2 separate regions of the Homo sapiens genome follow, and region 1 is linked to region 2. The links come from fine-mapping of genetic effects on gene expression. A gene starts in region 2. The other region holds a variant in brackets. All regions are shown on one strand. Distances are between the middles of the regions.

Region 1 (5,374 bases), 61 kb before region 2:
TCATGTAATTCGTTAACTCTAAAAATTGACATTATAAATAATTATAGATTAATAACTACCTTTACTTTTTATTTTACATTTTTTCTTATTGACTTTTTGTTTTTTTTACTTATTAATATAAACTACTTCCTACCAACAGTGAAGGATTTTTACAAAGCAATCCTAAATTTATGAGAAATCCTGAATTTCATATTTCACATGAAAAAACTATACAATCCTACCAAGGGTCCACATTTATCAGTATTGGAAAGTTGCAGTATTTTTTATTACACAAAACCCTATATACTATTTCTCTTGCAGTTTTAAGAGCTGTTTTTCCAGTCACCTTTTTAATGGCACGTATGAGTACTAGGAAATAGACAAGAAAACAAAGAAAGCAATAAAAGCAAATAGAAACTTCCATGAGATTGATTTTCAAAATGAAAATGGGTGGCTGAGATGACAGGGAATTGGGGACAGGGGACTGGAGCAGACGGGGTGACTCACTTGGGTCACTGTGGCATGAAACTAGGCATGCTGGGCTCCGAAGTCACACCTGGAAACGGAGCTACTCCGTGAAAGTCCTATTCATGTGAACCAGGCTGCTACCACACTAGGCTTCTGCTGTGGGGCCATTTTACAGGACAAAAGCACTCATAAAGAGCAAGCGTGGGAGCGGGCATAGGGCTTGAAAGTGTGTGGACACAGCAGAGCATCGGTGGACAGTGGAAAGCCAGGAGCCACCCAAGATTCACTCCTACAACAAGGTCTCCCCTCTCTAAAGGAGAAATTGAAAAGGACATGGTCTTTTTCATCTTTCATCATAGACCAGTAGAATTGTGGATTCTCCACAACTCATTTAAGCAAAAACGAATGTGTCAGTTCAAGTCATACAGCTGTCCCTACTTACCCATGGTTTCACTTTCTGCAGTTTCAGTTAACTGAAATCAGCTGCAGTCAGAAAACGTTAAATGGGACATTCCAGAAAAAAGCATTCCCTAAGTTTTAAATTGCATGCCAATCTGATAGCACGATGACATCCTGCACCATCCCCCCAGGGATGTGTGCCACCCCTTTGTCCTGTGTACCCCGGCTGCAAACGTGGCTCGCCCGTCAGTCGGCCACATCATCTGCTCCTGACACACAACCACCGACACTGTCATGGCTGCGTGACCCTCCCGACATATCACAGGAAGCTCAGGAGCAGCCTAGCCCTATGTCACAATGCCTACACCATTCCCCTCACTTATCCCACACACAGGGACTGGGGCATCTCACATCATCATCATAAGAATACAGGATATTTTGAAAAAGAGAGAGCACGTCACACAACTTTTATTATAATATATTGTTATAGTTTTTCTATTTTATTGGTTATTATTAGCCTAACAAATAATCTTTATCATAGGTATGTATGTATAGAGAAAAACATACCAGAGGGCAGGCGCTGGGGAGGTCAGAGTGGTGTCATCTTGGGCAGAGGTCAGGCAGGGCAGAACAGTGTGGGCGGCCCAACGGGGCAGGCAGGGCGGGTGTCTGGGCCTCGGCAGCCAGGTGGGCTGTCCGGAGGCAGCCTTCAGGGGTGCGGCTGGCTCTGAGGGGCGCTTGGGCCCCTTCCAGCCCAGGGCAGGTGGGCGAGCTGCGGGAGCCCATGGGTCCAGCAGCCATGTGTGGACCTTAAAGCCCTTTGTGGTCTTCGGAAGCGCTTTGACAGCTCTGGACTTTGTATTGCAAAGTAATCAAAGTGCTCTGTAGCCCCTGAAGCAGTTAGGCATCTGTGAAGTGGCCTGCGCAGACAGAAGCGCTTGGTGATCTCAGAAGCACACTGAGCTTGGAAGCCAAACCAAAGCCTTTAGTAAATATCGGATCATTCTGACTTCTCCAAAGCACGCTGGCATCTCTGAAACTGTGAGAACTGTGATGGGCAGTGGGAGGAAGAGGGAAGGGGGTCCATGGTGCTGGATTGGCACAAGGTCAGGTACCACCAGAGCAGAATGTGGGAAGGTGTCCCAGCAAGCGCAGCTGCCTCCGGGAGTCCGGTGATGTGGCCCCCTCAGCTGGCCAGCTCAGAGCTCTGTGTTGGGTTCAGGACGGGCTGGTAGCCCCAAGCGCCTGAAAACCCAGGAAGAGGATGGTGTGGCTTGCTTCGCCGAGGTTATCCTGGGGCTCATCCTGCCGCAGAAGTAACTCCTCCTCCTTGACAGAGCAGGAGCACCTTCATCTTGGACAAACACTGCCACTTTCAGTGCCAGCTCCCTTTCTAACCTCCTGCATTTCAAGGAAATCACTTCTCGAGATTCTAACAAGCAGCAGCCAGAAAGAGCAGATAGTAAAACACAGATAACACAGCTGGGCACAGACAGAGAGGGGAAAGTCTCTTGGGTAAGCACCAAACTTCACACTCATACCATGTGCCCCAGTAGAACAGTGGGTCCTAATAAGCACATTCGTTTCCCTTTAGGTGCACCAAGATAGGAAAGCTAAAAGCAGACGTGGGGGCTATGCCTGCAGTTGCAGGAAGATGTATGGGGAACAGACACAAAACTCTCCCTTCCAGATAAGCAAGACAAAGAGACACACAGAAACATTTCGAGCCTGTGATAAGCTCTCCCACCCTGAACGCTTAAATACTCTTAGCCCGTAAGAGAGTGCCTCTGACCTAACTTGGCCAGAAGGCCCTCTCAGGTTTATTGTCCAAAATAAACCTATTTTTCACTGTTGAGCTGCTTTTCGTGTTTCTTTCCTCTT[T/C]AACACTTACATTTGGTGCTGAAACCCGGGACAGATGTTGGGGACAGAGGCTCTCTTGCAACCCAGGAAGCAGTGGGCAGCGGCAGCTTGTCCTGAGTTAACTCCTGGATCCTGAGAGTCTCTGGCCATGCACCCCATCTTTTCTCTCACTTCACTCTTCCAGCAATTTGTGCGAGGACAACTAATCTGAAGGGGACTGCGAGGCTCGGGCGGGGGCTACTCCCCAGTGGGCTCTCAAAACCCTCAGGTCTCAGGAATCCACCTCCAACCACCAGCGATGGGTATTTCGCTCCCTAACCCTTGCTCCCTCTTTCTCCCTCTTCTTTCTCTCTCCCTCTCCCTCTCTCTTCCTCACGCATGCCGGTTCGGGAAGCCCTTTGGTGATTCCAACTGGAACATCCAACATCAGACACTAATTCAGCTGACTGGTAAGATCTGCCTTCTCCTGGCTTTCTCGTGGTACCTGAGAAAGTTCGGTCTGCCGTCCCAGTCCTCAGAGGACCAGTGGGACTAAGCTAGAGGACATCTTGGGGGCGCCCAGTTTCTTCTCAGCTTAACTGTCCTCTTTGGAAAGAAGATTCCAGGTCTCTTGTCTGGGGATGCCTAATAAAAATAGACCCCCCCGGGCCTCCTCTCACCAGCCCACATGGTGCCAAACCATCCCACATTCCCACGCCTCCCCTCTGGGCTGTCTCCTTCACAACCTCGCCAAACTTGGCTCACAGGGACTCCTAAAGCCAAAGTGTTTAGTTTTTTATTGCAATATGGCCTGGTCCCAATACAAACAAGATAATAACAGCCAATTGCCTGAGAACAGCACCCTTTAACTTTCAGATTCTCAGGGACCTTGACAATTTTATCACCAGGAATGGCAAATGGCAAGAGGTTCCCTATACTCAGGCTTTCCTCTACCCTCTCTATGTCAACCTTGCACCCCTCATGACATCCTCCTTTTTTTTTTTTTTTTTTTTTTGAGACGGAGTCTCGCTGTGTCGCCAGGCTGGAGTGCAGTGGCGCAATCTCAGCTCACTGCAACCTCTGCCTCCCAGGTGCAAGTAATTCTCCTGCCTCAGCCTCCCAAGTAGCTGGGACTACAGGTGTGTACCATCACGCCTGGCTAATTTTTTGTATTTTAGTACAGACGGCATTTCACCATGTTGGCCAGGATGGTCTCAATCTCCTAACCTCATGATCGGCCTGCACTGGCCTCCCAAAGTGCTGGGATTATAGGCGTGAGCCACCGCGCCTGGCCAACATCCTTCTCTTACAAAAACAAAACAAAAAACCCTCCCTAGGTCTCTCCTTCCTCCAAAACTCCTTCCTCTGAATGACTTTGACGAGTTGACAGAAGTAGGCTTCAGAAGATCGGTAATAACCAACTTCTCCGAGCTAAAGGAGGATGTTCGAACCCATCGCCAAGAAGCTAAAAACCTTGAAAAAAGATTAGACAAATGGCTAACTAGAATAAACAGCACAGAGAAGACCTTAAACGACCTGATGGAGCTGAAAACCATGGCATAAGAACTACGTGACGCATGCACAAGCTTCAGTAGCCGATTCGATCAAGTGGAAGAAAGGGTATCAGTAACTGAAGATCAAATGAATGAAATGAAGCAAGAAGAGAAGTTCAGAGAAAAAAGAGTAAAAAGAAACGAACAAAGCCTCCAAGAAATATGGGACTATGTGAAAAGACCAAATCTATGTTTGATTGTTGTATCTGAAAGTGACAGAGAGAATGGAACCAAGTTGGAAAACACTCTTCAGGATATTATCCCCCAGGAGAACTTCCCCAACCTAGCAAGGCAGGCCAGCATTCAAATTCAGGAAATACAGAGAACGCCACAAAGATACTCCTTGAGAAGAGCAACCCCAAGACACATAATTGTCAGATTCACCAAGGTTGAAATGAACGAAAAAATGTTAAGGGCAGCCAGAGAGAAAGGTCAGGTTACTCACAAAGGGAAGCCCATCAGAATAATAGCTGATCTCTCAGCAGAAACTCTACAAGCCAGAAGAGTGGGGGCCAATATTCAACATTCTTAAAGAAAACACTTTTCAACCCAGAGTTTCGTATCAAGCCAAACTAAGCTTCATAAGTGAAGGAGAAATAAAATCCTTTACAGACAGCAAATGCTGAGAGATTTTTGTCACCACCAGGCCTGCCTTACAAGAGCTCCTGAAGGAAGCACTAAACATGGAAAGGAACAACGGTACCAGCCACTGCAAAAACATGCCAAACTGTAAAGACCATCAATGCTAGGAAGAAACAGCATCAACTAACAAGCAAAATAACCAGCTAATATCATAATGGCAGGATCAAATTCACACATAACAATATTAACCTTAAACGTAAATGGGCTAAATGCCCCAATTAAAAGACACAGACTGGCAAATTGGATAAAGAGTCAAGACCCATCAGTATGATGTATTCAGGAGACCCATCTCACGTGCAGAGACACACATAGGCTCAAAATAAAGGGATGGATGAATATCTACCAAGCAAATGGAAAACAACAACAACAACAACAACAAAAGCAGGGGTTGCAATCCTAGTCTCTGATAAAACAAACTTTAAACCAACAAAGATCAAAAGAGACAAAGAAGGCCATTACATAATGGTAAAGGGATCAATGCAACAAGAAGAGCT
Region 2 (5,374 bases):
AGGTAAAACTGTTAAGAACTGCTAACCTTTTTTGCTGATGAGTTTTGATGGCAATCTCTCCTACATTTTTAAAGAGCAGGCTGGGCCGAATGAGAGTCAGAGGTCATAAGGCCAGGGTCTGCAGGGGGACGGTCCCCTACACACCGTAAGCAGAGTGGTGGAGCTGCCCCTGCTCCTCCAAGCGGCTCTGTTCTCTCCCATTCTTTCCCTGGACTTCTCTTCTTTCTCACCTTTCTCACCTCTGGGCTCTCAGGCACACCAGACAAGGACAGAGAACACTCAGTCACCTAAGTCCAGGACGCACTTCGGATTTTCAGGCTTGTTTTTTAGGAGGATTTTATCTGCTACCAAACTCTTCTCAGTTTCCAGGTAGGTGCCTGGAATGCTGGCCGATGGTGGTGGGCTGATTTCCAGATACCCTCATCCCCCTCCGTCTTCCCTAACCCTCTTAGTGCTCCACAGAGCCTGAGGCACAAAGCGCTTACAGCTGCAGGGGGAGGCCTCAAACTCGCACAAAATTCAAGCTGCGTTTTGCTTGTCCTCCTCGGGACCTTTCCTTGGTCAACTGCTTTCTTTGGTCTAGTTCCCTGTCCTGTAACAGCGCAGGACCCTGGCAGAAGACCCAGATCCCTGTCCTGGCCAAGGCCCTCACCACCTCACGTCCCCGGCCTCTCTCCTACTGAAAAAGCACACCCAGCCCACCTATGCAGCTCCAAGGGGCAGCGCGTGAGAGAACTCCTGTAACACGCAGCTGTCACTCTGCTACAAGGCCACAGTTCCACAAGACACCGTTCCAAGCAGTATTATTTACATAGGCCGCACAAGAATCTTGCCCTCTGGAGTTGTGCAGAGGCAATACTGCTAACCTACCTCCACTTGGCTTTTAAAATCTTTAAAACATCCACATAGGTCTGATATTTGATGCCATTCCAGTTTCCCAAGAGGTGCTAAAGCAACATACCAAAGTCAGAAACTTCTAAGGAAGCAGAAGGAAAAACAGATCTCTCTGTCACAGGCACTTGCGCTGAGGCAACAGGCCTGGGTGTCACTTCTCTGACCACGTCCACAGCCAGAGAAATCAGCAAAGATCCAAAGCAAAACCCTTCTGCCTCAAAAACCGCATATAAGCCAAGAAGCGCGCCCAGGCCCCTCGGAGGCTGCCTTCAGTGCAGGGAGCCGGCCCTGGAAGCCTCCTGCGCCAGGCGCGGCTGCACATATGGGCCACTCCTTCTCCCGGACTTTCTGCAACTCCACGCGGCGCTAACCCTCTGGTTAACTCCGTCTCCTTCTTTTCCAGATGCGCCCAGGGGGACACCTAGGCGACTGCTGGGTCAAAAGCAAGCTTTAGGGATGGCGTCCACGAGACCCCAAACAGGTTTTTCCTCATTAAAAACCCTGGACTTCAAAGAGGTAAAGAAAAAAAAAAAAGCCCAAAGTCAGCAGATCGTAAAACGCATAAAACTCATATAACTCGACACCCCGAGTCCAAAGGGGCTGTTGCGGCAGGCTCCCCGGTGCCCACGTCACCAATCGCCTCTGAGAGCCTCGCACCCGGCGCTGGGCGAGACCGCAGGGCAGCGCGGGGCGCTCTCGATACCGAGGGGACGACGGGGCGGGGCCTTTCCGGCAGGAGAGGCTGCCCGGGAGGCGGCGGGACTCCGTGCGGGCGGCCACCCTACGCCGGGGAAGGGCCGCAGCGCCCCCGGTTCTCTCGGCCCCCCGGTGAGCGCTGTGGCTCGCAGCCCCGTCCCGGAACCCCGACCGCATCCCGGTCTCTAACCGCGGCCGGGCGGGCAGGCAGGAGGGAGCCCCGGCCCCGGTCTACTCTCGCCCCGCGCAAACACCTCCGCCTGACCCGCCCGCGAAGCCCCCTTCAGCGCCCTTTTCCCTGCCCCCAGTTCCACGTGGGCGCCAGGGACCCTGCGGCACGGCGCCGGGAGCCAGGGATCCCCAACTTTCGGCCGGAGTGTCCGGAGAGCCAGCCAGCCCGCCCGCTCGGCCGGGGACTCACGGCTCCATCTCGGCGCCCAGAGCCCTCGGCCCCGGCCCGCGCGTCCCGAGCCCGCCAGGCGCCGCGCAGCAGCCTCGGCAGCGGCAGCCGCAGCCGGAGCCGGAGCGACAGCGGCTGAGCAGCGGCCGGCCGCGGAAAACTCATCAGAGCGCGACGCCGAGATCACGTGCGCGGAAGCGACTCTCACGGCGGAAGAGGGCGCGGCGCGGTGGAAGCGGGGCCGCGGGCGCGCGGCGAGGGGGGTGGCCCTCCTTCGTGGCCCCGTGCCGGGGCGGAGCCCCACGGCCGGGAGCACCCAGGCTAGCCCTGAGCTGGGGCTCAAGACAGAAGGAATGAGTGAATGAATGACTTAGTTTACCTCTTGTCCCTAGGGCAGGTAAACAGCGCATTCATTCACTCCTACTTCCCGAGTGTCGGGGCGTAAGGATGGGCCTCGGGAGTCCACGAATGCCCTGCAGTTGTCTGGAAAACACTATGGGTGTCTGCATTTTTCTAGGGAGAGGAGCTATAGCTGTATATTCATTCCCTAAGGGTCTTGTGACCCCAAAAAAGGTTAAAAGCCAGGACAAACTTCTGCCACCCCGAATGATGACAGGAACCTTCCGGGCTCTTTCTGGTAGCTTCTCCCGCAAGCCGCTTCTAGACTGCAGCTAGACCAGTGGACCAAAAGCACTTTCCTGATTTCGCATCTTGGCTCAGTGTTCCCCATTTCTGTAATCAAGAATGGATGAGAACCAAGGTTTGGCTATTTCTGAGATTCTCTTTGGAGCATTACTCAAAATGTCCCGTGTTCCCGTGTGCTGTGGGTTTAAAGTCGGTCTGCATGAGTTAAATAAAGGACTTCCAAGCTTCCTTTGCAATGTATCCTCATTCATTCACTAAACTGTAAACAGGCTTACTATTGGCAGAAAAGTGTGGACATGAATAAGGAACAGTTCCTGCCCTCAGTGAAATTACAGGCAAAGAAAATTACCAACAGTAAGTTAGGTAGCCTTAGCTCAGGGTGCTACAGTGAGGAAGGGTGCCTAACTCGCCTTGGGGGAGTGGAGAAGGTAGGGGACAGAATGCAGAGTTTGGGCTGAATCTGGAGGGTGAGGTGGATATTAGGAAGAGGGGGGTTAAAAGGGGGAGATACCAAGCAAAGCACACCCTAAGCCAGGACACCAAGGAATAGTTACACAAAATCTCATTAGTGCTCTGAATCCTAAACCGCAACTCTTCAAGGAATAACAAAAGATTATTTCTTAAGTTCTTTTCATACATAAGCAGAGGGAAAGGGTTCTTCATAGCAACAAGACCGGAGAACAGAAACTGGGTACCTGCAGGGACAGACTGTTCACAGGGACGTGGGGCGCGGGAAGGGGTGAGTCGGAGGGAGTTCTATGAGCTAGAGCAGGGGTCCCCAACCCCGGAGCCTGTTAAATTACAGACGTGAGCCACCGCAACCAGCCCAAACATGCGTTTTCATGCAACACCTTCTGTTAAATGTTTAGGCCTGAGGATGCCTCCCTACTTGAGTCCTTACATAAGGAGCTGCAGCCTGGCATAGTTAACATAAAAGAGAAGACACCCTAATTGAGGAGGATGCTTTTGTAACAAACAGCTGAGTCTCAGCCAATCACAGCCAGTGAGCTTCTGTCATTGGCAGGTGGTTAGCTGATTCAAATAAGCTAGAACATAAACCTGTAACCAGTTAAGCTGTCTCTGCGCCTCAGTTCCACTTTCTGTCCATAAATGTTGTCTAACCACGTTGCAGCCCCAAAGTCCTTTGAACCTGTTGGTTCTGAGGGCTGCCCGATTCTAGAATCATGAAGAAAAGCTACTTAGGATCTTTAAATTTGCTGTCATTTTGTCTTTCGACACTTCTGATTCTAAAATGTTGGAAACTAATTCGAAAAAATATCTTAAACCCTGGGAGGGACTAAACAAAGCACATTTGCTGGCCACATTTGCCTAGAGGCAGCCAGTATCTACCTCCAGCCCAGAGCAGCATGAGATGATGTGGAAATCCCTGCTCTGTGCCAGCTGCCTGGTCTCTCCTGAGGCATCTCCAGCGAGAGGAAACTGTCACCACCCCGAGGACCCCTGGCCCTCACTGTGTGCATTTGACTCCAAACTACCTCCTGGCAATTCCTTCCTGTCAGATCTCCCTGGATTTGCTGTCCAGCGTCACCCAGGTCAGCATGAGCCCTCTCCCAACACTCCTTCAAGGATGTGAACAACCACATGGCCCTCAGCTCCTCTTCTCCCGTCATACTCGTTTTCTCATTTATTTGTTCTTCAAACATTAATGGAGCAGTGTGTGTGTGCCAGGAACAACTCTCAGCTCTGGAAACACAACACGAATAGACAGATGAGGTCCCTGTCCTTTTCTAGTCAAGAACAAACAATAACCTAAATAATTACTTAATTGACCGGGCATGGGCATGGTGGCTCACGCCTATAATCCCAGCACTTTGGGAAGGTGAGGCGGGGATCACCTGAGCTCAGGAGTTCAAGACCATCTTGGCCAATATGGCGAAATCCATCTCTACTAAAAATACAAAAATTAGCTGGGCGTGATGGCGGGTGCCTGTAATCCCAGGTACTTGGGAGGCTGAAGCAGGAGAATTGCTTAAACCCAGGGGGTGGAGCTTGCAGTGAGCCAAGATCACGCCACTGCACTCCAGCCTGAGCAACAGAGCAAGACTCTGTCTCAAATAAATAAATAAATAAATAAATAAATAATTACAGCTGTGATAGAAAAGGAAATGAAAGGTGCTATGATCATGTTATGAAAAGGGGAAAGGGACCCAAACTATTCTGGGCTCTAAGAAGCCTGGTGTGATCTATCAGCCATTTCTCACATGACCTGTTTGTTTTTGAGACAGAGTCTCCCTGTCACCCAGGCTAGAATGCAGTGGCGCAATCTCGGCTCACTGCAGCCTCTGCCTCCCACTCAAAAGATCCTCCGGCCTCAGTCTCCCATGTAGCTGAGACTACAGGTGTGCACTAACACAACCAGCTAATTTTGTATTTTTTGTAGAGACAAGGTTTCACTATGTTGTCCAGGCTGGTCTTGAACTCCTGGGCTCAAGCAGTCTGCCTGCCTCAGCCTCCCAAAGTGCTGGGATCCTAGGAGGTGCACCGCCTTTGGAGATAAGCTACTGTGAAAGTTGTCAGAATTAAAATGGAGTCACTTGTATTAAAAACAGGCCAGGTGCAGTGGCTCATGCCTATAATCCCAGCACTTTGGGAGGCTGAAGAGCACGGATCACTTGAGCTCAGGAGTTTGAGACCAGCTTGGCCAACAAAATACAAAAATTACCTGAGTGTGGTGGCAGGTGCCTGTAATCCCAGCTAGTCATGAGGCTGAGGCAAGAG

What was found.
Region 1: its variant is fine-mapped to the expression of TMEM181 in whole blood (TOPMed, PIP above 0.99).

Annotation. Positions count from the first base shown.
Region 1 is chr6:158,618,194-158,623,567 of GRCh38, reverse strand. TMEM181 (transmembrane protein 181) reads right to left here. Exons shown (of 17, transcript NM_001376852.1): 11 at 1-18. Among named protein-coding and RNA genes, the nearest start is that of MIR7161, 11 kb to the right of the region's middle. The variant T/C (reference allele first, on the strand shown) is at 2,728.
Region 2 is chr6:158,556,870-158,562,243 of GRCh38, reverse strand. TMEM181 (transmembrane protein 181) reads right to left here and starts at 2,153. Exons shown (of 17, transcript NM_001376852.1): 1 at 2,012-2,153. The coding sequence starts at 2,019. RefSeq lists enhancers at 122-621, 622-1,123 and a silencer at 1,543-2,462.